2 separate regions of the Homo sapiens genome follow, and region 1 is linked to region 2. Evidence: fine-mapped expression QTL. Tissue or cell type: whole blood. Region 2 holds a variant in brackets; the other region holds the start of a gene. All regions are shown on one strand. Distances are from middle to middle. Region 1 holds the start of LPAR3 (lysophosphatidic acid receptor 3). Region 2 overlaps LPAR3 (lysophosphatidic acid receptor 3).

Region 1 (15,337 bases), 30 kb after region 2:
ACATACATACACACACACACACACACACACACACACAGAGAGAGGCAGAGACAGAGAGAAGGAGGGAGGGAGAGAGAGGGAGAGATTGAGATTTCAAACCTAATGCCATGGAGACATAGAAAAAGATTATACTACTTATTTTCTCTTCACCAGACCCATGTGATAGTTTTTGTCCAGAGAAAGGCCTTCCTTACCCCCATTCGACGAACTGACTTACTAAAAATCAAACAGGGCAGGAGGTAAATGATTCACTGATGTGCTCCCAATAAATTCTATACTTGATCCCTTGCTTTGGTTTTCTATAACTAGTCACTGCCAATGGCTTTGAGTCTTAACTCTGGCTTTCTACCTCCTTAGGGAGTGAATGCTGCTGATAGACTCCGCTGCCTATCTTTGAATTACATGGTCTGAGTCTGTCTGGGGGCAGCTCCAGAATTTCTACAGAGGATGTGCTTCGGGATAGCTTGGCTTAAAAGGGGAGACCAGGGGCTTGCCTTAAAGCTGCATTTATAAAGCAAATACACTGCTTTTATTTAGACCGCATGTTTGCTTGGAAGGCCTTTGGACCAAATAGTGCACTTATGGAGGGGCTAATGTGCCCTCCAACCCAGCCCTGCCACCTGCCAAGCCATCCCTTGATAACTGGTCAATCTGCACATGGGTGAGTCAAGGCCAGGGCTAGTAGAAGCTCCAGCTTAATGTCCCAGGGAACAATGTAGACACAGGACTAGCTGATGAGTAATTAGAGGGGTTGATGAACATCCTCAGGAAGGGGTGGGGCAGGCTGTGCTGGGCAGGTTGCTTTCCACAGTGACACCCAGTCTGGCCCAGCCTGAGGTGTACAAATGATTCACATCTGAAGAGGGGTGACAGAATCATGGGAGTAGGGCAGTATCAGGGGTCATGGGCAAGGGAGGAGTTCAAGGTTGTAGATACACAGGACAAGAGGCCAGCCAAGGAAGAGGAATAAAGAGGAGGACATAAGACTGGGGGTGATGAAGAGAGGGGTGGGTATAACCCAGGATGTCAGAACCTTCCCCTCAATGGTACTAAATCCCCTCCCCCACCCTCCAGCTGGCTTGCCAGGACAGGTAGAGAGCAACAAATATCTTTCAGACTGAATTAAGTAATTAGCTTAATTTGGGGGTGGGGGAGCAATGCCTTTGGTCAGTTTAGAACTTTGCAGAGTAAACTAGAGACCCAAGTCAGCAAGAAGGCACAGGGGAGTGAGGATGGTATAGGTGGACCCAATACATTGTCCAACATTGCCATCAGCACCCTCCTCCTGACCTGTGGGATGGGTGGTGGCCAGCTGTTTGTGTTTGTCCACTAAGAACTGAGATGCGCAGACAGTACAGGTAATTCCAACACGAAATTAAAGCTTCTTTGGAACTTTGCCCTATGCCTTCGATCATGTAGTGTTGGGTAACCTCAGTCCTGAAATTTAACTTCCTCTCATATTCCCCACAGAGCAGTTTCTCAACCTTTGATGCTATTTCCTCCTCGAAGTCCAGTATGATGTCAGAGGACGGGAGAGAGGAATATGGAAGAACTGCAGCAGTGCCCCCTTAGCACTCAAAACATGCTTGTGGAGATACTGCCAACCCCCAATAGCCAGAGCTGAGTGGGCCTGCCTGGGGTGGCCCACATCTGGATGTCCTGCCTCTTTAATTCCAATGTTTATGCACTCTTCACAGGGTACAAAGCTCTTTCACGTACATAAGTTAATGGAACTCATTAACAATCCATGTAGACAGGTAGAAAAGTAATTATTATCCCCACTATATAAATGAAAAAAACTTAAACATGACAATCTATTCAGGGTCACAAGAACTCACAAAAGTGGGACTAGGATTCAAAGACAGAACCCTGTGCTCCAAGTACCTCTAGTCCACCGTTTGTAAAAGCACAAAGTCTCTGCACTTATGCAGATAGCTCCCCAGCCCCATCACCACCTCTGCCATCCACAGCAGGACTGAGTTCCAGGTGACTCCTCCACAAATACAGAATCCAGGATGAGGAACAAAGGATCATCAAGGCCGGAAAGGGGGAGGCTCAGTACCTGCAGGAGGAATGACGAAGGGAGGAACAAAAGGCCCATGGCCAGGAAAAGAGAAAGCAAGTAAGAAAAGTGTGTATAACATCTCTAAGTCATCTAAGGCTTAGAAATCTTTGCACTTTTACCAGAATATACATTTGCACCCATGTTTACACAAGTGTTAATACTTAAATTTTTATCTAGGAGGAAAAGAGGGCAACCAGCATTTAAGGAGTACTTCCTGTATATGAGAGACCATGCTCAGTGCTTTCTCTTTTAATCTTGGGAGATGGATATAATCTTCATTTTTACAGATGAGGAAATTAAGACTTAGAGAGGTGAAGCTATGTGCCCAAGGTCACAAAGCTTGGACTGGAACAAAAGCTGGTCTGACTGCAAAGCCTTGGTCTTCCATTTATACTGCATTAATAATGCCTTGGGCCTGGTCTCTGCCATCTAGAATCCTGCAAACAGACTTAACCACTCTGTTGGGTATAATCACAGGCCAGAAAGCATTTGAACTAATGTATACTCCAAGGAGAATGGCTAATGGGTAATCTGAGGTACAGTAATTCCCATTTCAGTTATAGTGATTCCCCTTGCCCCAGCCCAAAGAAATAAGAGGCGGGTCTTAAGTTATCACGCACTGCTGCTCCTCAGCAGCAGGCTGAGAAACTTGGGGGAGAAGCAGCCAGCCTTAGGCATGTGTGTATAAGTGATGTTGAGAGTGTGTGTCTGGGTGCTGCCTGGCTACAATGCTGTGTGTGCATTTCTTCCACTGTGCACGTGTGTTTCTGAAAAATGAGATGGAGAGTTAACATGCTGTAGTTTCTTAAACAGATTCCGGTGAACACACATGAAAAACAATCTCATACTTTAATGTTTTAAATTCAGTCTCCATTCATAGAAAACATATGCAGGCCTGTTCTAACAAATATCTTGCAGAACAGCAAGATATCTAAAATAGGTCTGATCTGATAAAAAAAAAAAGAGTGGTAGTTGATAAATGCAATTGAAAGGTTTAGACAAGAGGAGTGTCATATGTAATTAAATCAAAACCTCAAAGTTTCAAATTCTAAAGACAAAGAAAAAATTTTTGCCAAAATGACCTATTTTCTTAGTTATATGATAGTGACAATCAATGTAAGTGTTGTCCAAATAGTTAGACGTCCAGATCTCCACAGGATAACTAGTTCCTTGCTGTCTCAAGGCACAAGAGACAACTCTGGAAGCTTATCTCAAGTACACAACTCTGACTGGCAGGGTTTGCTCGCTCGTCTTTTTAGTATAGTCCAGTTTGTTTAGACAAGCCTGGGGTTAACAGAGCCAAGGTGTGTGTTTCTAACCGTATCACTTCTGTCCCAAAAAGAGGAAAACTCTGTTTACTGGACTCAGGCCACTAAATATCAGATCCACTGCCCATGGAAAGCAGGGTTAGCAACTGTTGATGGATCAATGGAAAATCCAGCAACTCTTCTCAGCGATACAAAAGTCCATGCATTAATGAAACGTTGTGCGGTACATGGAATTTGTAAAGAGGAGATTGATTGTCTGTCTGTAATTGACATTTACTTTATTCTCTGATACAGACTAAGTTGGAACCGTGAGAAAGCCCTTTATTTCTAAACGGCATCTCAAGACCAGGTAATGCTACTTTCGGAGGAAAAGGAGGAAGAAAAGCGTTGTAATGACAATAACAAATTACGGGGGAAACATTTCGTGGAAATTACTCAGTTTAAAAAACTGACCTAGCCGGGCGCAGTGGCTCACACCTGTAATCCCAGCACTTTGGGATGCTGAGGAGGGTGGATCACGAGGTCAAGCGTTCGAGATCAGCCTGGCCAACACAGTGGAACCCCGTCTCTACTAAAAATACAAAAAATTAGCCTAGCGTGGTGGTGGGCGCCTGCAATCCCAGCTACTAGGGAGGCTGAGGCAGGAGAATCGCTCGAACCTGGGAGGCGGAGGTTGCAGTGAGCCGAGATCGCGCCACTGCACTCCAGCCCGGATGATAGTGCGAGACTGTGTCTCAAAAATAAATAAATAAATAAATAAATAAATAAATAAATAAATAAATAAAAACTAACCTACAAATGCTTTTCAGGGCCATTTTAATGATTACCTTAATAAGACTAAATTGTTTCCAATATTCACAGTCACTCCTCAAATTACATGCGTGCGGAATTTCTAAGCAATTTTGTGTAGCTGCAACTTGTTGAGGGAAAGCAATAAAGTAACTCTGCTACAGAACAAAAGCACTTTTGTCTCGTGGTGGTGAGGGGGCATACCCTGAACAAACAACCCCGACAGTGTTGCTAGTTACTAGTTCCCGAATCTCTAGAAGCCTGCACATGGTTCAAGCTGTTCCCCAGCGGACACAGCACAGTACCAGATGTAACTGGAGGCTGAAAAATGTTATATCCCTAGGCTTCACGAGAGAACCCCAGTTTCCTAATCACCATCGATGGCAATGAGACTGAGTTTGGAAAGAACCACGTGTGCAAAGGCAGACGCAACCCGTGCGGCGCTCTCCTGGCCTCTGCGCCCAGCCCGCCAGCCCTCAGCAGCGGACGCAACGCCGATTTTGCATCTAGATTGCTTTTTGCTCCTAGCGGGGAAAAAGGTGGGAAAAGAGCAAGTTGTGCCATACACCCGCCGGGAGAGTCTTGTCCCGGGGTTTGGAGTGGGTCTGGAGCCCAGGCTTGCACGCCAGGCAACCCCGAAAAGCCGCAGGCTAGAGCCCTGCAGGCGCCGCTGCGCCCCGGCCTCCCCACGACGCACGCCCTGGTGACTGCGGCTCGGGGTACCCTCCCTGCGCCCGGACCCTCACTCACCGCTCACGTTCACCCGCGCCGCCGAGCCCGGGAGCGGGGGCCCCTGCGGCTGCCGCATGCCCTCGGGGTCGAGCGCGACGGGGCGACCGGGCGCCGGGCTCCAGCCGGGCGCGGAGAAGCAGCGGAGGACGCGGCGGGCGGGCGGAGCGCCTCCTCTCCAGCGACCCCTGCGACGCGTCCAGAGCCAAAGGAAAGTTTGGCGGTGCGAGGGAGGGACCTAGGGACAGCGGCCCCTCCCTGCCCCGCCCCGCCCCGCCGGGTGCGTTCGACGTTCCCACTGGAGAGCGTCCCCAACCTGCAAGGCCGCGAGCTGCGCTCAAAGGGGCCCGTGCGAGCCGCGGGAGGGCAGCGCTCTTGCAGACGCGTTCCTGCCTGGGATCGTCCCCAGGTGGGTGGTCGGCCGGCCCCGAGAGGGAAAAGCGCCCACTAAAGGACCGCTAGTACCCACAAGCCTCACGGAGCCATACCTCGGAGCTCCGTATTAGAACGCAGTCCCTCTGCCCCTCTGTCCTCAGAGATTTGTTTGAAGTGGCTGCGGGAAGTGCAGCCCACACCCACCACCCCCGTGGGAGGCAGGCTCTACTCCAAGCCCGACCTAACGCTGGAAACCTCAACCCCAAAGCTACCCGAGGGTGCGGACAGCCCCCAGAGGCAACCAACAATATTTAAGGTTCTTGTAAGAGGTTTCTTGGCCTCCTGGGGCAAATAGTCCTGGATACTTTGTTTTTCAAAGCTGAAATATAAAACCTCCACTGACCCACCTTTAGTAAAGAAGAAAGATGCAAAGTAAAACAAATGTCATGAAGGCATTGTTCTCTCTGAATTCTGCAAAGCAATAACGAAGTCACAGAAATGTTCAAAGTTGTGCTTTCCTGGTGACCTTACAAAAAGGAAATACTGTGAGGTGAAGTCCTTCCCACTCAGACTTCAGGCCCTTAGGAAGCAATGAGAGTTGTGTGCCCAGATGTCTTCCTGTGACCCTTTGCCATCCATCCATCCGTTCATTCATTCATCTTGCATTCACCATTAATACTGCGCCCTTCTGTGTGCCAGCTAGGAACCTCATCCTTGCAAACAACCTGTTAGATAATCTGTCCCCTACCATCAAAGAGATTCTGTTTTCTCTGCAGAGGATGTTTTAATAAGGTTACGTCCCTTACTCCGTGGGTCTTATCCTATAGACCATAATAGCCTAATGTGCCTCAAACCTCCCCGGGGCTACAGCTAAGTTTTCATCAGCATGTGAAAATTATTGTTTCATCTAAGTGTTCAGAAAATTATTGCGGTGTCTTGCAGTTGAACTGTGTAGAGAGAAGTACAACTTGCGAAGCTAGGGCTAAAGAAAGATCATGTGTTTACTTTTACAAGCAGAAGCTTTGCATATGATAAAAAAGCTCGGTGGCAAACATGGTGAAAACCCGTCTCTACTAAAAATACAAAAAGCCGGGCGTGGTGGCACGCACCTGTAATCCCAGCTACTCTGGAGGCTGAGGCAGGAGAATCGTTTGAACCTGGGAGGCGGAGGTTGCAGTGAGCCGAGATCGCGCCACTGCACTCCAGCCTGGGCGACAGAGCAAGACTCCGTCTCGGAGGGGCGGGGGTCGGAAAGAGCTCTCTCTGTCAAGGGAGAGAACAGCTCAGCTCAAACATCACGGTGCTGAAGGGCAACCTGGTAAACACAGAAATACTCAACCACCAGCATTTACTGAATACTTGACGCAACAAAGGTGTAGTATGTTGAGTAAGATGTTGCAGGCTAGACTGTAAACACCACTAAGAGCCTTCTTTTGCTGGGAAAATCTGTTCTGAATCCAAACAACTTACTAACAAAGGCACTTGGGAAACACATTATGTTGCATTATGTTGTACCTTGGGAACTTCCTGAACTCGAGGTAATTGCAAAGCAGAACAGGGATCCCACAGAGTTGAATCTGAATCCTTAAAAAAGGAGGAAAGTGAAGAGGGCATGGGGAGCTGTGTTGCAAAAGGAAAGAGACTTTCCAGATAGATGGTTTTTAACAGCTAGATGGGTCAGATGTGAGGGGAAGGCCAGAAGGTGTTACAGAGAAACAGATTCAGAGAGGAAAAGCAGTGATAAACAAACAAACAAACAAACACCTATGGGGAGAAGCAGGAAAAGAAAAGACGAGGCAAACGACAACTAAAAAGAAAGATGTGGCCCCCAATTCCTAGTTTTTAGAAGGTAGCCCAGGGATTATCCACCAGAACCTCCTACAAATCCTTGTTTGGCCTGTGGTGTCTCACTTCTCTACCGAAATGTTTTTATTAGCAAAGCCAAATTAAAATTAACATCAAAATGGCAAGGATGAAGGCTGAGGGTGTATTTTGTCTTAGAGATCACTGGCTGGAAAGTCATTCAAAACTTTCAACAAACATTTGCTAGTCAGCTTCATGTATACAAGTGTTGTGTTTTGTGTTCCTGGAAACACAAAGAGTTATAACGTTGTTTCTATAAGGAGGTAAAAGGGGCATTCCACAGTGCTTGATAGAATGAAATTGTGATGGCTGAAAGAACAATTGGGGGTGGATGTGGTGGCTCACGCCTGTAATCCCAGATATTTGGGAGGCCAAGGTTGGTGGACCACTTTAAGGCCAGGAGTTCAAGACTAGCCTGGCCAACATGGTAAAATCCCATCTCTACAAAAAATACAAAAAATTAGCCAGGCATGGTGGTGTGCACCTGTAATCCCAACTACTTAGAAGGCTGAGGCCAGAGAATCGCTTGAACCCAGAAGACAGAGGTTGCAGTGAGCTGAGATCACACCACTGCTCTCCAGCCTGGGTGACAGAGTGAGACTCTGTCTCAAAAAACAAAGTAAGTTTAAAAAACACAAAACTGCCTGCCTCCTTCCACAGTGAGAAGCAATGTGGGACTCAGGCAAGGCTTCCTCCTCTCTGGATTTATGGAAAGAGGCCATGTTCCTCTGTCCCCAGCTCACCTTGGGGCTTCAATCATATGGGCAGGAATTCACAGATGTGTTGTTCTTAACTTTGGGAAGTATCTGAACTGAATCTCTGCTGAATTTTGCTCATCTATACTAATTAGCAATGAGGATGCCTACAGCAGGTGGATAGTGTGAGAAAGTGGAATGGGAGCTGTAATGTGAGAGATGAAAGTGGTACCTGAAATAACAGTTCTGAGAAAAGACTGAGCAAACAGTTAACTCCATAGAAACTACTGGCAAAGAGAGTACAAGAATGGTAGGTGGCCCTGTGGAGTATCTCTCAGTAGTATATGAGTGACTTCAATTGAAAGTCATGGAAATAGTCCATAAATAAAAAAATCAAAAATAAAAACCAACATGTTGAAAAAACAGAATCTAAGGTAAGCTCCCTGTTTTACTCGGTTTCTGGTTCATTGTAATTTCATGTACATTCACTTGAGTATTACTTTAGCATACGTGTGAGCTTGGCTAGTGTGATACTGTAGGCAAATATTGTAATTCTCAAGGGGAAGTTTCAAGCAGAAAATAGGAAGCTAGCATTGTAAATCTTTTACAAATCCTTTCTAAAGAGCATTGGAGATTATGGGATGGAAAGTGATAATCCACCACTACTACAGTAAGCATGCTTTAGAGCAGTCACTCAAGACAAAACACCCTAAAGCTCCCATCCAAGCAGGCTTTACTTTCACATCTACTTTACCTACCTTCCAGTTTTGAGGAAATTCTATCTGGAGACAATAATTGAGGTTTTCTTTTAATACCATTCCTTATTGCCCTCATGACTACTCAGCTCACTGAGGCAAGAGAATCTATTTTTTCTGAGAGCATTTATCAAGGGTGGACACAAAAACAACAAAACAACCACCAAAAAAAAACAACAAATTTTTAAAAGAAAAAACAAAGCGGACCTGGCATGCCTATAACCTCAGCATTTTGGGAGGCCAAGGTGGGCAGATCACTTGAGCCCAGGAGTTCAAGACCAGCCTGGGCAAGAAGACAAAACCCCGTCTCTACAAAAAAAATACAAAAGTTAGCCAGGCATGGTGATGTGCACCTGTGGTCCCAGCTACTCAGGAGGCTGAGGTGGGAGGATTGCTTGAGCTCAGGAGGTAGAGGCTTCAGTGAGCCATGATTGTACCACTGCACTGCAGCCTGGGTGACAGAGCAAGACCCTATCTCAAAAAAAAAAAAAAAGTAAGAAAAGAGAAAGAATAAAAGAAATCAATTCTCAGCTTGTAAATAGATTTTTTAAAATTCATAGCAGAAAAACTAATCTTAAACACCAAGGTTTGTGATTTTGCAAAAGATGGGTTTTCTGGAGCTTCAAAGGGCTAAGTGCAGAAAGAAGTGAAACATGAATGTTTTGTCCATAAACAGTCAATTAGAAGAGAACAGATGAAGAACCAGACCACCCTCCCTGGAGGTTAGATAGGGTTTCCTGACCTGGGGAGGAGAATTTGAATTGAAGAAGAGATAGCACTGAAAGCCATGAGCATGGTATTTCTGACCTCTCACCACTCCTCAGGCTAAGTTATTAGGGACACTTAGGTCTCCGCTCAAGTTTAGGAACCCAGGAATAAAGTGGTAGATTGCATTATTATTTAAAAATATATTGGCTCGGTGCGGTGGCTCATGCCTGTAATCCCAGCACTTTGGGAGGCAGGGGTGGGTGGATCACAAGGTCAGGAGATCAAGACCATCCTGGCTAACACGGTGAAACCTCATCTCTACTAAAAATACAAAAAATTAGCTGGGCATGGTGGCAGGCGCTTGTAGCCCCAGCTACTCAGGATGCTGAGGCAGGAGAATGGCATGAACCCGCAAGTCGGAGCTTGCAGTGAGCCGAGATCATGCCACTGCACTCCAGCCTGGGCGACAGAGCAAGACTCTGTCTCAAAAAATAAAAAATAAAAAATATATAAGCTGCCCCTGGCTGGAAGCAGTGGCTCACGCCTGTACTCCCAGGACTCTGGGAGGCTGAGGCGGGCAGACCACGAGGTCAGGAGATCAAGACCATCCTGGCTAACACGGTGAAACCTCATCTCTACTAAAAAAAAAAATAATTAGCCAGGCATGGTGGTGGACGCCTGTAGTCCCAGTTGGTTGGGAGGCTGAGGCAGGAGAATGGCATGAACCCGGGAGGCAGAGCTTGCAGTGAGCCAAGATTGCACCCCTGCACTCCAGCCTGGGCGACACAGCGAGACTCCATCTCAAAAAATTAAAATAAAAATAAATAAATAATATAAGCTGCCCCTTTCCAGAGGAGAATTCAACTTCTCTGCCTTATTGATGTCAGGTTTATCCATTTGACTTGCTTTAGCCAATAAAATGTGAGCTTTTCTAGCCAGCACAAGGTTCATTTTATTCTCTTTTTCCTCTACCCTGATATCAGCAATATCAGCTCCACCAGCCTGGATCTAGGAGAGCACAAGGCATGGAGAAATACCATGGCTGACCCAGGAAGGCCAGGCGAGTGAAAAATAAACCTTAGTCTTTCTAAGCCACTGAGATTTGGGGAGCATTTGTTACCACAGCATAACGCAGATGACCCTGACTGATACAAATAGAGAAGAGGTCCCCAACCTTTTTGGCACCAGGGACCGGTTTTGTGGAAGACAATTTTTCCATGGACAGGGGTGGGGGATGGTTTCAGGATGATTCAAGCACATTGCATTTATTATGCACTTTATTTCTATTATTATTACCTTGTAATATATAATGAAATAATTATACATCTCACCATAATGTAGAATCAGTGGGAGCCCTGAGCTTCTTTTCCTGCAACTAGACAGTCCTATCTGGGGGTGATGAGAGACTGTGACAGATCATCAGGCATTAGATTCTCATAAGGAGCCGCACCTAGATCCCTCGCACGTGCAGTTCACAATAGGGTTTGTGCTCCTATGAGACTCTATAATAATGTCACTGGTAAATCTCACAGGAGGTGGAGCTCAGGCAATAATTCAAGTGATGAGGAGTGGCTGTTAATACAGATGGCGCTTTACTCACTGGCCCACTGCTCACCTCCTGCTGTGTGGTCCTGTACCTAACAGGCCAAGGACTGGTACTGGTCTGTGGCCCCAGGGTTAGGGACCCCTGAAATATTGTACTGTGCCCTGCTTTCCATCTGAGACTTGGATAGAAAATATTAATGGAAGTGCTTCATACCAACCTGATATGGGGAGCAGCAGTACTGAAGTGGTGACATGGCAGAAATAGACACAGGAGGGACTGAATCCACAGTTTCCTGTGAGCCCCAGAGTGATGGAGAATAGCACTCAAGTCAGTTCTTTGCTGCTAAATACCTAAAAGGAAACCTGGGTGGTGAATGCAGCAGGGACAGAGGCCAGCATCCAAAGATTAGGAGGGAGAATCACCCCCAAAGGAATGTAGTGAGCCAGGTGTTTACCACCCACCCACTCTACCCCAACACCTGAACACCTTAAAATCTCTTTAGAACCTAGATGCCACACGGAGAAAATGAGAGGGGCAGAAGCCTAAATATAAACTTAAAATGACTGAGACTGTTGCATTTGCCCAAGTTTACCTGGAAAGCCATACGACTAAATTATTCAGTCAGTGATAAAAATAGTGGGTTCAGCCGGGCACGGTGGCTCATGCCTGTAATTCTAGCACTTTGGGAGGCCAAGGCAGGCGGATCACGAGGTCAAGAGGTCAAGAGATCGAGACCATCCTGGCCAACATGGTGAAACCCCGTCTCTATTAAAAATACAAAAATTAGCTGGGCGTGATGGCAGGTGCCTGTAGTCCCAGCTACTTGGGAGGCTGAGGCAGGAGAATTGCTTGAAGCTGGGAGGCAGAGGTTGCAGTGAGCCGCGGTCGCATCACTGGACTCCAGCCTGGCAACAGAGTGAGACTCGGTCTTGGAAAAAAAAGAAAGAAAGAAATAGGAGGTTCAAGATAGAATTCAGATCCGCTTTTACAAAAATAGTTGTATGTTTGTCTGCCTAAGTTTGCAGCCTGAGATATGTATACACACTTCACCAAGATAAGAGAACATTATGGAGACTCCATGAGTTCAACAACTGTGGAATGCTGAGGGTCCACCTAGGCAAAGATGAAGTCATGTGTGGACAATGATAGCAGCTTGTATAGTAGACTACCTTCCCCCAAGCCTGATGTCCATGCTATGCCTAGATATTGGCTTTGCTAAGGCAGCCATCAAGGATCTGCTTCTAGCAACACATTCAGCTGCACAAATATTTATTCTAGTAAACCTGAAAAAGGAAATAGTTGTAAATAAATCCTGCCAGAATTTTCTTCATTCTATGCACTAAACTTTTTTCCTTGTTTTGCAAAAGAAAGCTGTAATATGACACTAACATTCTCATCTCCGGGATTGATTTTTTTTCAATTGGATTTGAGGGGCACTGGCCAGATTAATATTTAATGTTTTTGTGTAATTTGAATACTAACACAGTAGACTAAGATAATGTGAATGCACTATAAAAAAAAATCAGAGCTTTAACCTTTAGTTCCTCTGAAATAGAGGGCTGATGCCTTTAAAATGGAAGATCAAGGGCTAAGAAGTTTTCAGGCTTTGATGTCATACAGTTTGAAATAAAAAATATATACGATTAAATAGGATTCTATAATATTATGACAGAAACATATTAAAACAAGTAAATCACACAATTTTATACTTCACTTTGAAAGAATTTAGTTATTACTTACCAGCAAGAAAATATGTCATGATAAATGATCTTGCTATAATAGATTTTCTAGGAGGTTCAATATTAGGTTTTTTAATTACTTGGACATGGCTTACTTTCATTATGCTGTGTTGTGATAGAACTAGTATAGCAAAGGCGAATAACAATGACGGGTACAAAGTATAAATATGAGTGAGGAAAATAATGACCAATGTGTGTAGAAATAAGCATATAAGTAAAAAGTTGTGAAAAACAAAAGAATAAAACTGAAACATGTTATAGGACTTAATTAAAGTGCCCATGACTTCTAAGATTCGCTGTCAAGTTTGAAAACTTTTTTTTTTGAGACGGAGTCTCGCTCTGCCACCAGGCTGGAGTCCAGTGGCACAATCTCGGCTCACTGCAACCTCCACCTCCCGGCTTCAAGCGATTCTCCTGCCTCAGTCTCCTGAGTAGCTAGGACTACAGGCGTGCACCACCACACCCAGCTAATTTGTGTATTTTTAGTAGCGATGGGGTTTCACCATGTTGGCCAGGATGGTCTCGATCTCTTGATCTCATGATCCACCCACCTCAGCCTCCCAAAGTGCTGGGATTGCAGGCCTGAGCCACCGCACCCAGCCTTCAAGTTTGAAAACTTTTATACGTTCTACCATATTTACTAGTTAAAAACCTTGGCCAATTTCACTCAGTCTCTACAATTATAAATGGAGTAATAGTACCTACCACCAAATGCAGTGGAAATTAAAAAGATAAAATATATTGTGGTAATTTTTTAAATGTGCTTATTACCTGGAAAAAAACAATTATTTCATGATGATAAAATGATCAACTCATCAAATAATGAACCTTCAAACTATATGAAATAAAAATTATCAGAGCCAAAGGGAGAAATAGACAAATCCCTAATTATAGTTGGAGATTCTAACACTTCTCAATAGTTGATAGGACAGGTAGACAAAAAAATAAGGTTATAGAAGATTTGAACAACCCCATCAACTAACTTACCTGATTGGTGTTTATAAACGTTAACACCCATCAACTACACAATATGTGTTTTCAAGTACACATGTAATATTCACCAAGATAGGCTATGTATTTTTTAAATTTTTTATTTCCATAGTTTTTGGGGAACAGGTGGTATTTGGTTGCATGAGTAAGTTCTTGAGTGGTGATTTGTGAGATTTTGGTGCACCTTTCTCTCGAGCAGTATGCACTGAACCCAATTTCTAGTCTTTTATCCCTCACCCCCTTCCCACCCTTTCCCCTTGAGTCCCCCAAAGATAGACCATATTTTGAATCATAAAACAAGTTTCAATAAATCTAAAATAATTGAAATTATTCTCTGGCCAAAATGATAGTAAATTAGATGCCAACAACAAAAAGATATCTTTAAAATCCACAAATATTTGGAAATTAGGTGACACACATATAAATAACCCATGGATCAAAGAAGGAATCACAAGAGAATTTAGAAATTTTGAACAGAATAATAATGAAAACATTACATATCAAAATTTATGTGTTGCAGCCAAAGCAGTACTTAAAAAGATGTTTATAGTTTTAATTGGTTATACAGATGCTTCTCTACTTATGATGAGGTTATGTACAGATAGACCAATTTTAAAGTAAAAAAAAAAATCATAAGTCAAGCCATAGGTGCCACCTGTATTAGAAAAAAATAAAGTGAAAAAATTAACGATGTAAACATCTGCCTTAAAAGGCTAGAAAAAAGAAGAGCAAAATCAACCCAAAGAAAGTAGAAAATGGAAATAAAAGAACAAGAATGGAAAGCAATTAAAGAGAAAACAAACAGTAGGGAAAACCAAGAGTTGTTCTGTTGAAGAGATTGATAAAACTGATATTCTCATAGTAGATTGGTCAAGATAAGGAAGAAAACCCCACAAATTGTCAAATCAGTAATGAAAGGGGAACATCACTATTGTTCCTACACACATCAAAAAGTTCAAAAATAATATTAGATAAATTTGACAAGTTGATGAAAAGGACAAATTCCTTTAAAAACATTGAGAGGTGAAGCCAGCTGAGCTTCTGGGTCAGGTGAAGACTTGGAAAACTTTCGTGTCTAGCTAAAGGATTGTAAATGCACCAATCAGCACTCTGTGTCTAGCTAAAGGATTGTAAACACACCAATCAGCACTCTGTAAAAACGCACCAATCAGTGTTCTGTGTCTAGCTAAAGGATTGTGAATGCACCAATCAGCACTCTGTAAAAACGCACTAATCAACACTCTGTAAAATGGACCAATGAGCACTCTGTAAAATGGACCAATCAGTGCACTGTAAAATGGACCAATCAGCAGGATGTGGGCGGGGCCAAATAAGGGAATAAAAGCTGACCACCCCAGCTAGCAGCGGCAACCTGCTCACGTCACCTTCCACGCTGTGGGAGCTTTGTTCTTTTGCTCTTTGCAATAAGTCTTGCTGTTGCTCACTCTTTGGGTCTGCAGTACCTTTATGAGCTATAACACTCACCGCAAGGGTGTGCAGTTTCATTCCTGAAGTCAGCAAGACGATGAACCCACCATGAGGAACAAACAACTCCAGACTAAAGAGGTGTGACACTCACTGCGAAGGTATGCGGCTTCACTCCTGAAGTCAGTGAGACCACAAACCCACTGGAAGGAAGAAACTCTGGACACATCTGAACATGTGAAGGAAGAAACTCCGGACACACCATCTTTAACAGCTGTAACATTCACTGCGAGGGTCCACCGCTTCATTCTTGAAGTGAGACCAAGAACCCACTGGAAGGAATAAATTCCAGACACAACATGACTTACCAAAACTGATAGAAAAAGCAAT
Region 2 (15,337 bases):
CCAGCCTTGGGCGACAGGGCGAGACTGTCTCAAAAAAAAAAAAAAAAAAAAACCTAAAAAACACGATTCTTACCTATTTCCCTCCCTTGTCTACCTGACAGGCATGTCTCAGCCAGAGCCCATCTAAGGCCAAGATGGAAGTGAGGAAACCTGGGTTCTGCTTTTAGCTCCAGCATTTGAAAAGCCACTTACCTTCCCCTCAGCCTCAATTTCCTCATTTATTCATTGTAGTACATCTCAACAAGTGTGTGCCAGATAGGGTGCTAGCTGAGAGTACTAGCTGTTAGATATGTAGAGACAGATAAATAAGGTACAGTCCCTGACTTCGAAGGGTGTATACTCTAGTGCAAAATAAAGGCATGTAAACAATTAAGTACGTTGATTGTTGTATGGACAAGACTGACAGGCAGCCCAAGGGAGGCAGTAATCAGATTTACTCCAGTAGGGCAAAGGAAGATTCAAAGAAGATAGACCTTTGAGTTAGGTCTTACAAGGTGAATGGGAGTTTCCCAGGCAGAACTAGGGGAAAGGTATCCCAACATCTGCAAAGGCTTAAAGAGACAAAATGGGGGAAGCGCAAATAATTCATTATAGCTTGAGTATAGGATACATCTAGGGGAGTTGCAGGAAAATCGGATAATAATACCTTAACTACTTGCTTGGCAGGATTTCCATGAGACCAAAGAGAACAGTGTATTAAAACTGAAAAAGACACAGTACTGCAGAAACATCATGTGTGATTATTATTAGTACTCTGGCAAGGCTCTTTATGGTACTTAATTTTCACCCATTTCCTCCTAGCATGAGAACTTGAGCTATCGTTTCGTTGCTTACTGCTACTTTGCCTTCTTCCTCTCTCCCCTAAGAGACAAAAGAGGATGATTTAGCATCAATCTAAGTGGAGAGGAGGGAGGAAGAAGTGAGAAGAAAAACAACCAGCTCCCTGTTTTAATTACCACAAGCCCTAAGTCCCTTAACAACGATAATGTTTCATATTTTAAAAGAGTTCAGTGCTTTCTGGCAGAAAAATAAACCTTGACCCTCAAGATCATGGTTTTTCAAACGTTCTTGACGATAACTCATGATAGGAAATACATTTTATATCACAACCCAGCACACACACAGGCACGCAAAGAAAGGTTATAAAACAATATTGATACCTGTTAAATGCAACACACTCTGACATTTTCTCTTCTTTTTATGTCATTTTAAAAAGTGTTGCTTACAATCTCATCAGTGCATCAAAACTTACAGTTTGAAAAACATCACTAAAGGACAGGAGGGTTCATGGAAGACTTCAAAAGAATGGTTTGCAAGTCCCTTCCCTCTTTCTTTTCTCTTGTATTTTAAGACACTGCAAAATAAAGCAAAGTCCAGCCCATTTTCTGGGAAATAACAAAACATTTCTGTGTGCACAGTTCACATGGTGTGTTGTTTGACAATAAATTAGACGTTTCCATGTGGGGTTTCTTGTGTGTTTGGTTGCTGTAGCTGATTAGGCTTGTTGACAAGTAAGATTTCAAAACCCTTTCTTAGGCAGGGCCTTGGTGCTCTTTGGAAAGCAGGATCGTATGTCTCCGATGTCTTTTCAATGAGAACATTCAATAAGCAACTTTTTTCACATAAAGGGCCCCATCACACATTCTAACCCAGAAGTGAGCAAGCATTTTGCCTCAGGGCTGCTGAAACGGGAACATGATGCCTTGATGCCTTTCCAATCATGCACACACAGATTGAAAACTCACATCACCATCATCACTACCACCACTACCCTCAAGGAAAGAGTCTGAATCCCCATGCTGTTAGCTTTTGTGTTCAACCAAAATCCCAAAGCTGGAAAGGAACACAAAGGTCATCTGGTCTACTCTCCTTCCAAAGAGGATAGCCAACTAAACTTTGCTGGTTCACAGGTGAGCTATTTTTCCACCGCACCACAGCAAGTATTTGTACTCTGTGGGGCCTTCCTCATGGTAATGCACAAGCTTTAAATGTTTCTATCATCACACTTCTGAGTATGCCATTTCTCCCTCTTAGAATGTGTCTTCCTCCAGCCCATGCAAATCCCACCTATCCTTCCAGATTACATCCCAGCCCATTAAGAAGCCGTCTCCACACTCAACAGCCCCTGTCCATCCTTTCCTCTTCTGAAATAAGATTAAGCTCACTGAATTCATGCAACCATGTACCTCTTAGATACTGTTTAATAGACAGTTAATATGTACTTAGAGACTGACTTTCTAATATGTAAAAGAAGAGGGTTCGTAAGAAACTTTAGGATTTAATTTTTTTTTTTTTTTTTTTTTTTTGATACGGAGTCTCACTGTCACCCAGGCTGGAGTGCGGGGGCGCCATCTTGGCTCACTGCAACCTCCACCTCCTGGGTTCAACCAATTCTCCTGCCTCAGCCTCCTGAGTAGCTGGAATTACAGGTGCCTACCATCAAACCCAGCTAATTTTTGTATTTTTAGTAGAGACGGGGTTTCACCATGTTGGCCAGGATGGTCTCAAACTCCTGACCTCAAGTGATCCGCCCGCCTCGGCCTCCCAGAGTGCTAGAATTATAGGCGTGAGCCACCACACCTGGATGGATTTAATCTTAAATGAATCTTTCCTACAAAATATGTATCAAGGAGTAAATGGAAATGTTTAGCATTTTATCATAAAGACATTTAAATCCTCCAATTATTAAAAACATGAGTATTAAGCTATTCATCTCCACATAATCAGAACCAGTGATTAGATGATGGTTAATGCCAGCACTGTTGATTTTTCTAATATACTATCATTTGGGAGATGCTTGTTTCAGGCAATTGAATTCTTACATGTAGTATGTAGGGAACTGGGGGCTTTCTCCCTAGGAAGATACTGTGGTAGGTGCTGCTGTCAAGGAAAGAGGCTCTGTGCTTGGATCCACAGAAATGTTTGGTGCTGCCCCACAAGATTCATATTCTCTCTCTCAATCTCTCTCTCCCTCTCTCTCTCTCCACTCTTCCTTTTCATTCCCACCTTTGGTTACTAACTGTCATAAAGGATAATTGAACTTTGTAACTTGTAAAGAACTTAAAGATGGTCTATGCCACCTGATGAGGGAATCTAACCAAGAAAAGATGAGCTGATGTGCTGCAGATCACCCTTGTAGAAAATGAAAGAATTGGGGGTAAAACCCAAATCTTTCTGTTATCTAGAGAAATCAGGAGCTGGAAGTCTTCAGCCTTACACCACCTAGCTCTTGAGTTTCATTTCCCTCGTCCCTGAACTTCCTGTCTTCCACCAGGTTCCTCTGTCTTACCATTAAGGAACTTCTGAGGTCCTTGACACCAAACTGTCTTTCTTCCATTAACCAATTCCCCAATGTTGTCTTATCTCAATTGCATGACTTCTCTTATCCTACTTGGAAATTTAATTGTTCATTCTGGTTTTTCTCTTAGTCAATACCACACCTGCCAAAACCTCCCAGCTCCTTTCTTTTAACCCCTTCCGTAACTGTTGCAGACAAAATTACATACAAAACTGAAGTTTGTGACCATGACTGTCTCACAAAGGGTCCTGTTCTCTCCACCTAGGATTTTGGAATCCTTGTCTCTATCATGCTGTATACTATATTATAATATGATGAGAAAAGAAAGTTTTCTTTTTAAGCAGGCGGGTAATTTCTCAAGACACATAGCCAAGCAAATGATTATGCCTACAAGTTAAGCAGGGACAGCAGCACAGTTCATTGACACTATCTGTAAATACCAAAGTTCATTCTTTATCAAAAACATCAATATCTTCTCCAGCTCGAGGGGAAATGCCGATTAATGTGAACCCTCTTTTTCTTGTTCTTGTCCATTTTCTTATCAATGTGTCAACGGTGTCAAAGCAGAAGACAGGACAAAAAGATGAGCGTAAAAAGTCCAGATAAATCACAAGTAGCCACAGAGTATGGTGGTAAATATGTGAACTCTAGAGGCCAGCTGCGCAGTGAGTCTTGGTTAACAGCTGAGTGACTGGACACACTGCTTAAACTCTCAGTTTCTCCATCTGGTAAATGGGTATAATAGTAGCACCTATCTCACAGGGTTTCCATGAGAATTAAATAAGTTAATGTTTGTAAAAACACTTAGGACAATGCTTGGCACATATTAAGCACTATATAAATATTTGTTAAATAAATCCTCAGTTTGAAATTATTTTAACAATCACACTCTGTGTCTGCTGACCCCCAAATCTTACTAGCAGTTTCAGGACCTAGAGGCATTGTGAGGGTTTCTATACCACACCACACATACTGTATCCTCCACTATGAACTGCTACCTGATAATTCATTTTATAATTCCTTCTCATAAGGAGTAGACAGAAATGTACTCCTGAATCTCTCTCAGCAACAGTCCCCATTGCTGCAGCCACACACACAGTGAGAAACGGCCTCTCTGCCTTACAAGACAAGTTCTGTGAAACCACAAAAGTTCTTGTCTGCCCACACATTACAAATTCTACCTGTAACCCAGAATTAGAACTGGGGAGGTGGGGCAATAGGCCACCTACTTCAGAGAAAATAAAACAAAGGGAAAATTCTACGAAACCACATGTCTTCTTGGTACAGGGCTCACAACCTTTCTCTCCTCCCTTTTTTTTTTTTTGGTTTTGTTTTTGTTTCTTAAGACAGGCTCTTACTCTGTTGTTCAGGCTGGAGTGCCGTGGTGTGATCACAGCTCACTCAACCTCAACCTCCCGGGTTCAAGCGGTTCTCCCACCTCAGCCACCCAAGTAGCTGGGACTACAGGTATGCACCACCATGGCCAGCTAATTTTAGTATTTTTCATAGAGATGGGGTTTCACCATGTTGCCCAGGCTCTTCCTTTCTTTCTCAATTTTACTCCAATCAGGCTCTTGGCTATACCAAATGTGATGATCTCAAGATCAGCACAAGTCCACCACTTTGGTAAGGCCAGCAACACCTGGTCTTACACCACCTCTCAGGGGTACCAACACTGCTAATGCTTCCTCTCCTCGATTGCCTTCTTCTCTTTCTTCTAGTTCCCCAGAGTCTCCTGGGTTTTCCATCCCTTCTAGGGCTCCTTTGCTGGCTGCCCCTTACCTCCTGACCTCCTTACACTGGAGGGCCTGCCCTACGGCTCCATCCTTGGTCCTCCTCTCCTTCATATCCACATTCACGTTCATGGTGAGCTCACGCAGTCCTGTGATTTAAAATACCAGTTTCCCCCCAGGACTCTCAAATGTACATCTCCAGCCCAGACCTAAATCTTGAATTCCTGAGTCAAACATCCAACTGTCCACTCAATAAAATTGCCACACCCCTTGGATGTCTAATAGGTTCCTAAATTTAGCTTGTCCAAAACCAAATCTTCCCCCAAAACCTCCTCCTCTTCAGTCTTCCTCATCTTGGTTAATGACATTCCCCACCTTCTCCTCCACCTCTCATCTTCCCCTCTACCTTACCCATCAGTAAATCCTTTAAAAAATATCTGGAATCTGGCCAGGTGCAGTGGCTCACACCTGTAATCCCAGTACTGTGGGAGGCCGAGGCAGGCGGATGGCTTCAGCTCAGGAGTTCGAGAGTAGCCTGGGCAACATGGTGAAACCCTGTCTCTAAAAAAATTACAAAAATTAGCCGGGCCTGGTGGCACAGGCCTGTAATCCCAGCTACTTGGGAGGCTGAGGTAGAAGGATCACTTGAGGCCAGGAGGTGGAGGTTGCAGTGAGCTGAGATTGCACCACTGCACTATAGCCTAGATGACAGAGCCAGGTCCTGTCTCAAAAAAAAAAAAACAAAAAACAAAAAAACAGAATCTGACCATCACCTTCAACTACCATCTGGCCATGGTGATCTCTCCCGAGTACTGAAATACTCTATTAACCCATTTATGCCAGGGGTTGCAAATTTCTTTTGTGAAAAATCAGAACTTGTCAATGACCTTGAGCAGTAGGATATAAATAACTCCCACAAGCTTAGCATTCCAATAATGGAACACTAGGCATAAATAGGTTAAACAATTTTCCTGTTTTTGCTATTGCCTCATTACAGCAGTGTCTTAAAACAGTAGCCAGAGAGATACCATTAAAATATAAGTCAGATCATGTCACTCCCCTGTTTAAAACCTTCCCATAGCTTCTCATCTCACTTGAGACTGGCCCAGCCAACATGGAGAAACCCCATCTCTACTAAAAATACAAAAATTAGCTGGGCATGGTGGTGCGCTGCCTGTAATCCCAGCAACTTGGGACGCTGAGGCAGGAGAATTGCTTGAACTCGGGAGGTGGAGGTTGCAGTGAGCTGAGACGGCACCACTGCACTCCAGCCTGGGTGACAGAGTGAGTGAGGCTCCGGCAAAAAAAGAAAAAAGAAAAAAAAATGAAAAGCTGAAGTCCTTATAACCACATGACCCTACATTATCTGAGTAGCCCATCCCCTACCCCACCAGCTCCCTGACCTCATCTTCTCCTACTCCCTCTGCTCGATCCATGCAGCCATAGTGGCTTCCTGGCTGGTCAGGGCTCCTGTGCTTACCGCTTCTCCCACCTGGAACACCCTTCCCCAGACACCAGTATGGTTCACTCCCTGACTGCCTTCACACCTCTGCTCAAAAGTCATCTTCCAGGCATCCCTCACAACACTTTTTTAAAGTGCAAACGATACCTGCTTAGCTTAGCACTCTCCAGCTCCCTTCCCTGCTTTATTTTTCCTTCCTTCCCTGATTGATTTTTCCACAGGAGACTCATCTTATTTCACTTAATTTGTTTACCCCCATTAGAATACTTATTTTATCTTTCCTTATTAGAGTGTAAGCTCCAGGTGGGTGGCGATTTATGTCCGTTCTTGTTCACTGCTGCATTCTTACTGCCTAGTAAGTGCCTGGTACACCACAGATGCTCCGTAAAGATTTGCTGAATGAATGGGAATGATGGCTTGCTTGGGTCCTCTTACCTACCTAAGACAGTCATCACCGTCTTCATTAGCTTCATGGGTGTCCTCCGGCGGCTGATGGACCCACTTGTATGCGGAGACAAGACGTTGGTTTTCCTCTTGACGTACACGTAGATCCGCAGGTACACCACAACCATGATGAGGAAGGCCATGAGGTTGGACACTGTCCAGAAAACAAGGTAACTCCTGCTGTAAATGGGGGCCAGGGAAGAGCAGGCAGAGATGTTGCAGAGGCAATTCCAGCCCAGTGTGGGGACCGCCCCCATAAAAATGGCGATGGCCCAGACAAGCAAAATGAGCAGTGTCACCCTCTTTTTGGTCAGGTTGCTATGGACCCGCATCCTCATGATTGACATGTGCCTCTCCACGGCGATAACCAGCAAGTTGGTGAGGGAAGCAGTCAAGCTACTGTCCAGAAGCCCCTGACGGAGAAACCAGCGGTTGACAGTCAAAGTTTTTGAAACTGGGCCTGTGTTAAACATCAGGAATACATAGGCAATTCCAGCGAAGAAATCGGCAGCAGCTAAATTAGCCAACAGGTAGTAGAAGGGGAAATGAAATTTTCTGTTTTTGATCACTGCCGCGATGACCAGAGAATTAGAAAAAAAAATAAACAGGCAGAAAAACGTCCCAACACACAAAACAATCACAAGCTTTGTTCCTGTCCAGTCATCGACAGTATCAGTGTTGCTCCTATTATAAAAAAAGTCCATGTGCTTGTCATAGTGACACTCATTCATTGTGGAGAAGTGAACATCCTAGAAAGAAATTTAAAGAAGAAACAAATATCATTTGTAAAATCAGTCACTAAGCCATCAATTGCTGTTTCTAAGCCCGTTCTGGCTAACTCCCATCAAGGGAGTTGAAGACCTGAAGTGTCAGGTCTCAGTGCAAATGTCCTTTGGTCCAGGACATAGCCCCTGACCTCCTACCACAGCATTTAGCGCACATTTTAATTGTTTGTTTCCCAGGCTAGGCCGCTCAGGTTAGGAGGGTGTATCTCTATTTTGTTCACCATTACAACCCTAGGATTCAGTTGCTCTGTCTGCCTCATGGTGGGTAATTATTGGTAGGTTGGCTGGCTGGCTGAATGAATGAATGAATTCTCATGGAGGCATCAACAGGGCAAATGTGCTGAGCCCTGCAATATCCACTCTGCACTGGTAACACAATGACAACACATTATGTTAATGCCTCCTCCTGGCTCCCAGTTCATTAGTTATTTATGGATATGTTCATTAATCAACGGCAGGTTGGTAATTTCAGGTACATTCTTCCCAAGATAATAGGAGTTGAATTACCATTCACATAACCAAACAGATACCCCAAGAGACCAGTTTTCTATGACTTCTGATTCCACTCCTGATCCTCCTTTTGCCATCTTTTGGTTTCAACAAACAACTCTGATATTCACATATTAGGTATATGATGCAGGGATGGAGACTTTGGTCCCAATATCTCCCTTCCTTACCTTTTGTTCACTTCTTCCTTATAGTCTCCTAACCCAAACTGTACCAATGTGAACCTGCTCACTGGATTTTCCAGCATTCCTCAACACGGCAGGTGGAGGAGGATCGGGCTTCCACAGGCAAGACTGAGATTTGGAATTGGGGCAGATCTCCAACTCAATGTGGATGTGAGAACATATCTATTAAGTGAGGGCATGTTCTTCAGACACTTGTCTGAAAGAAGACCCCAAACTGGGATATCAGGCAGACAGGGAAGACACTAATCCTCTCAGTAAAAGATCTCTTGAATCCCAAAAGCGAGGGATCTTGGCCAAGGAAGGGCTGGGCAGAAGCCCCACGGATGCCCATCTGTCTACACGTGGTGGGGAAAACCAAGTGTTCTGCCTCACAGTGGTCTGGCCACAGCCATGAACGGTCCTACGGAAGAAGATTGGGCTTAGGGTCAGGGTTCTAGCTTCTTGGAAGAATGACCATCTGCTCCCTCACTGAGAATGAGGCTGCAGCTTATTCCCTGGAGAACCAGAGATTCAGTCGGCAGAGGGACTGAGCAGCCCTCTGGGAGCTGTGACAGTAAAAGCTCAGTAAAAGCCCCCAGATTTTAAAGTTCCTGAAAATTCTGAAATCTAATACCACAACCAGAATCAAGAAGACCAGATAACTATTAAGTAGTACAAAATAGAAATGTATCTCAGT[C/CT]TTTTTTTTAATTTATATTTTAATGGTATAATGATACTTTTACATGAATTAGATATTGCTTTTTGGCCATAGCAAATGGGAGGTAAATATCATTTTATATGCTTAAAAAAAACTGGGAGTAGTCTCAAGAGACAAATGGTTCCAGTATCTTTCAATTACAAGAAAGGAAGACTCAATTTTCATAATGACAAAATAAAAATTACTCTCTTTGGCAGACAGTCACCAATATTTAACTGTAAATATCAAATAAATTCATGATAATATCATATATTTACACTATATCATAATTTCCCCAAATTAAAAATACAGGTAGTATAATTTTAATAGCTTCACAATATTCTATTATATGAATAGGCCACACCTGACTTAACTAATCCTAAATACTGGACATTAGGGTTGCTTCCTGTATTTCACTTTTATAAGCAAGGCTGCATTCTTGTTCATTAATCTTTATATATCTAGCCAATTGTTTCTTTAGGAATAACCCATAGATTTCAAATTGAAGTAAAGGATATAAATCTATTTAAGGGTTTCTGATACATCTTGTGAAACTCCACTTAAGAGAGATAGCATTTTTTTTTTTCCAAGATGGAGTCTTGCTCTGTCGCCCAGGCTGGAGTGCAGTGGTGCAATCTTGGCTCACTGCAACCTCTGCCTCCTGGGTTCAAGTGATTCTCCTGTCTCAGCCTCCTGAGTAGCTGGGACCACAGGCGCATGCCAGCACGCCCGGCTAATTTTTGTGTTTTTAGTAGAGACGGGGTTTCACCATGTTGGCCAGGATGGTCTCGAACTCCTGATCTCAGGTGATCCGCCCACCTTGGCCTCCCAAAGTGCTGAGATTACAAGCATGAGCCATCACACCCAGCCTGAGAGATCATATTTTTAATTCTACCAGCAGCATATGAGAGTTAAATACAAGGTGCTAATCTAGTGATACTCAATTTAAATATTTAAAGAGAAATACAGCTTTCAACCATGTTGAAAGTATACAGAAATTCAAGACAAACAATCCGAGAATCACTTGCTATGGTCTGAATGTTTGTGTGCCTCCAAAATTCATGTTGACACCTAACCCTAACTGCAGTGATATTAATAGGTGGGGACTTTGGGAAGTGAATGGGATTAGTGCCCTTATTGAAGAGGCCTGAGAGAACTCGTGAGACCCTTTTTGCCACACTGCCATTCAAGGACACAGCATTTGCCCCCTTCTGGAAGCAGAGACCAGGCCCTCACCAGACACCAAATCTACTGATGCTTTGATCTTGGACCTCCTAGCTTCCAGAATAGTGAGCAATAAATTTCTGTTATTTATTAATTACCTAAAGTATTTTTATTATTGCAACAGGAATAGACTAAGACACCACATGGGAAAATTTAATAATACAATTATTATGTGTCTTTTCTAATTAAAAATAATGTATATATTTTACTTTGTTTCATGCTCTATACATCTAAGAGAAACATTTCTAATTTAAAAGTTATATTATCTTTGACTAATTTATTAGAAATATAAAGATGAATATGTCACAAAGACATTGGAATTAAGACACTACAAAAATACTACTCAAATTTTCCTAATTTTATTTTGAAGGATCTTAACATTTTAGTTTTATTTCTTACATGTGGTCGAATTTTTAATTATATCAAGCACTAACACCTCAATGATTTTTACTTCAAAAATCTTCAAATTCAACTGTCCCTTGTCAAAACCAAAACAGTTTAAGACATGTTTTTAGCAAAAATTGCCCTGAGACTGCAAAGCAATTTTGTCTGACAAAGTTGAGACATCACAGAAAAACTATGATTAGCCAGAACTCCCACTAAGCAGCACTGTACCCTGGTTCCAGATCCTACTTTTGAGAGAAACAGGTAATGAGAGAAAAAAAACTTCGCATAGGAAATTGGTGAAAAAGATTGCACAGGATGGAATACTATACAGTCCATGAAAAACATACTCACTATGAAGTTGCGGTAATACAAGAAAAAGCCCATGTCATTGCTTTAATATACAATACACATAACAAAAATTTATTTGTGTTGACTATATAGAAAAAGATAATGAAAAAAAATCTCAAAATGTAAATAGTTAAGAATGGTGGAACTGTGAGTCATTTTTTAAAAATTCTTTCTAATTTTTTCCATCTACCACATTTTCTGTAATAAGTAAATCAAGACTTTTAATTAGAAGCATATATTCTACTTAATGTATTCTATCTTCTACAATTATGGCTTTGAAAAATCAAAATTAATGTTCAAAGGAAAAGCCTCAAAGATTTGCATATGTTCAGTTTATTCTTACAAGCACAGCACACTTCAGGGTTTTTCAGTGACAACAAAAATAAAATAGTTTTCTACTTAATCTTCACATAACCAAAACTTGACTTGCAAAACCCTGACCACACAAGGATGTAGCTTTCACCAATTCTCCTATAAAACATTGCCTAATGCCATCACCACAGATCTCCCCAGTACACGTTATCTACAGATTATCATACTGTCTTAGCTAGAATTACCAAAAATTTTTAGCAAGCTTATAACAAATGACTGATTTATTATTATCTCTTGGCCTCCCTTAACCCTTAAAATATGATTCTGTGATTTTGAACAAATTAATCAGTTACTTCAGTCCTAGTCTCAATGTCCCCTCCACAAAGATACTTTTCTGACTAATTCAAGATAGCTCCACAGCTCTCATTCTCAGAGAGCCCTTGGTTTACCTCCATCAGAGCTACCCAGTTGCTTGTGACCCAGTATTTTCTTTTGTTGCTTAAGAATTTATTGTCCATCTCCCACCCCTAGACCGTTCCACTCCAGCAAAGCAGGGAACCTGCCTATTATGCTCATATCTACAGGATCAGTATTTGTTGAATGAATGAATGAATCTCTGTCTTACACTATCTTTTTCCATGTCTAAAATGAAAAGGTTCTGTGAAATGCCTTTGCTGACTTATACATCAATCACTAAGTATGACAAGTAGCGAGCTCTGTCACCTATTAACTAAGTGTTTTCAGGTACATTACTTAATATCTCTACTTTATTATTACTATTTTTCATTATTAATATTTGAGTGCTTATCTGTGCCAGGTGCTGAACTAAGCATTTTACATGGATTATCTCATGGTATCCTCCCAACAATGATGTAGATACTATTATTACACCCATTATGCATTTGAGAAAACTGAAGCACCCTTGCCTAAGGTTACACAGCTAGGAGTGGGAGACCCTGGATTCTATTCAGGCAGCCTCGTTCTACAGCCTGCATTCTTATCTGCAACACTATACTTTATCTCCACAGGCATGTGAAACGCCAGACAGAACCAAGGACTATATTTATACTTACAAGAGTTACAGAATTACCAAAATAGAATGATCTGATCAAATCACATTAAAAGACTGCCCCATGCTATAAAAAATAGAGGGCATTCTAAATAGCCTTTGGCCTTTTTTTTTCTTAACCCTGAGAAGACACTTTTCTGAAAATATGTTTTCAACTTTTATGGTAAGTAGGATACAATATGGTCAATTTCAGGACCAGGTTAACATTGCTCAACTTTACTTCTGTCAAATCCCAAGCTGTTTTTTGTTTGTTTGTTTTTATACTAAAGGTTTAGAGGGTCTGATAGTTCTAACCTAGAAAAAAAAGATGCTAAACTTTGGAGCAATTACCACAACTTCAAACTTCAGTAATTTAAGACTTCATAAAATGATGGTTTAGAAAGTCTATATGTGGAATCCAAATGAAAACTTCATGAGCAAAGCTTTCATTTAGACTCTTCCAAACTTGCTTCCCTGAAAAAATGTCCAGCCAGCCCAGAATGTGGAAACAATTATGAGAATTAAGACATTTGAAAACCACTCAAGCAGCTTTTATTTCTAGCTACATCTTATGAGACAAGTTGCTGCCTGGCTTTTTAGCTGGCTTTCAATAACAATCTCTCCTTCCTCCTAGAAAGAAGTATGGTACATCAAAGACATGGTCAGTCAATACTGAGCATATCTTCTTTCTCTGTGGTTCACAAATGTAGACCAGTCCTCTCCTCTTAGGAAACTCTATCCAGATGGGAGTTGGATGTTAGGTTAGTTGGTACTCTAGCAACCAATCCTGGGTCAGCAATCACGTCTGTTCACTGAATTCCTTTTAATAATTCATGTTAATGGCAAAATCAGGATAGCATGGAAGATTTAAATCCACATGAAATCCCAGAGGTTCATTTTAGCCATAGTTTCAAGGCCTTTGCACTTGCCATTCCCTCTGCCCAGAAGACTTTTCCCCAAGATACCCAGGGGGCTCATTTCTCTACCTCATTCCTGCTCAAATTCATTTCCTCAGAGATCCTTTCCCTGCCACTCTCTAAAGAGCACCCCAAGCCTCCACCCGCTGCTGCACTTAAGCCATTTACCCTGCTTTATTTTTCTCCACAGCATTTCTCCATACCTCAACTATCTACTTGGGCTACGGTCTATCTCCCCAACTTCTATTTAGTCATTATGTCTCCTTAGGCTCCTCTTGGCTGTGACAGTTTTTCAGATTTTCCTTGTTTTTGATGAAGTTATGCTTAGGAAGGCAGAGAACGTATGTTGTTATGGTGCCTGCAACAATGCCCAGCACACATTAGGCACTCAGTAAATACTTGTTAAATGTAGAATTAAATGAAGTAATGCTTGTGCACTCATGTCTACATGCTCCCTAACCTTTACCCAAATTCAGCATTATTACTTTATGCTTCTTCTGCATATTCTCTAATTTGGGTCTCACAACCCATTTATTCCTCTGGGGAGACTTGGCTCCAAGTCCTGCAAGCTGAGAGGTATAAGGAGTGGGTTCCCTACCTCCAGAAAAGCAGCTCACCTGAGCAGACCAGTCAGGGTCGTTCTGAAGGACAGTCTCACAATAGAGACCTCTCTCTATTAGTATGAACACCAGAAACAAAGATTCCTCTTTGAATAATACTTCAAAAGAGGGACCCAATGGCCAAAGCTACAACAATCCAGGCAACAAAATAAAGTAGTACTGGATTATAACCCGAAGTATAAACATCCATGAGTCCATACTGACATAAATAAATTATTGAAAAAAATAATAAATGGAAAGATGAGACAAATCTCCCAGGCAGAAGAATACCAAATAAATAACATAGATATTCCGCTGTAAAGGAGGGGGAGCATAGCTCCTTTATATGTAGGCTGTACACAGGGACCTCCTTCCAAAGAGCACAATATGGAAATGGGGCGGGCGGTGGGGGCAGTTAGTGACGTCTCAGCAGAGAAACTTGACAAACACTACTTCAGCCAGATGATCAAGGTCAACATCAACAGTGATAAGTCATATTGCTAGTCTGTAATCTTGATAAGATGTATTACTTCATGATGAAGATCAGAGAGTAAATCACAGTTTACTGTGATCTTCCTCCCAAAAACCCATAACCCCAGGCTAATCATGAGAAAAACATCAGCTAAATCGCAGTTGGGGAACATTCTACAACATTTCTGACCAGTACTCCTCAAAACTGGTACTCATCAAAAACAAAGAAAACCTGAAAAACGGTCACAGCCAAGAGGAGCCTAAGGAGACATAATGGCTAAATAGAATAAGGATCCTGGGTGGGATCCCGGAACACCGAAAGGATAGGGGTAAGAACTAAGGAAATCTAAACAAAGTACAGATTTTAGTTAACGTTAACATATCCCTATCAGTTCATTAACTGCAACAAATATACCACAGTAATGTAAGATTTAATAATAAGGGATACTGTGTGTGGGAGGGGTTATAACATAGGAACTCTCTGTACTATCCGTTCAATTTTTCTGTATATAGAAGACTGCTCTGTAAATAAACAAATATTAAAAATAACTTTTAAAGAGGAGGCATGTTGTTGACTCTACTACACTAATTTTAAAATAAATAAAGCCCCTGTCTTTCATAAGCAGTTACTTTACTCTTTGATATGGTAAAATAAACAGAGGAGTGGCAATTTGTTCAAAATTAAATTTAAACAGACATTGTAACTGAGAATGAGATGCCTCTGATATTCTTGGATAAAGCGAATATGTTTATTAGAGGGGTGCTTGTTAAGGGTAGGGTTACAATTCGGTTTCTGTATCTTCATACTCTAGATCATTTCTCTTGAGAAAGCTAAACCCTCAGTGTTGCTAAAGTTTGGGTTTGGTTACTCTGCTTCTTTTGAACAGTTTTTTTTGTTTGTTTTGCTTGTTTGTTTTTTTTTTTTGAGACGAGTCTCTGCTCTG

The links.
Region 1: LPAR3 starts here. The variant in region 2 is fine-mapped to the expression of LPAR3 in whole blood (INTERVAL, PIP 0.95).

The regions. Positions count from the first base shown.
Region 1 is chr1:84,888,144-84,903,480 of GRCh38, forward strand. It overlaps LPAR3 (lysophosphatidic acid receptor 3), which reads right to left and starts at 5,063. Exons shown (of 3, transcript NM_012152.3): 1 at 4,873-5,063.
Region 2 is chr1:84,858,453-84,873,789 of GRCh38, forward strand. LPAR3 (lysophosphatidic acid receptor 3) reads right to left here. Exons shown (of 3, transcript NM_012152.3): 2 at 6,933-7,686. The coding sequence starts at 7,668. Among named protein-coding and RNA genes, the nearest start is that of LPAR3, 27 kb to the right of the region's middle. The variant C/CT (reference allele first, on the strand shown) is at 9,091.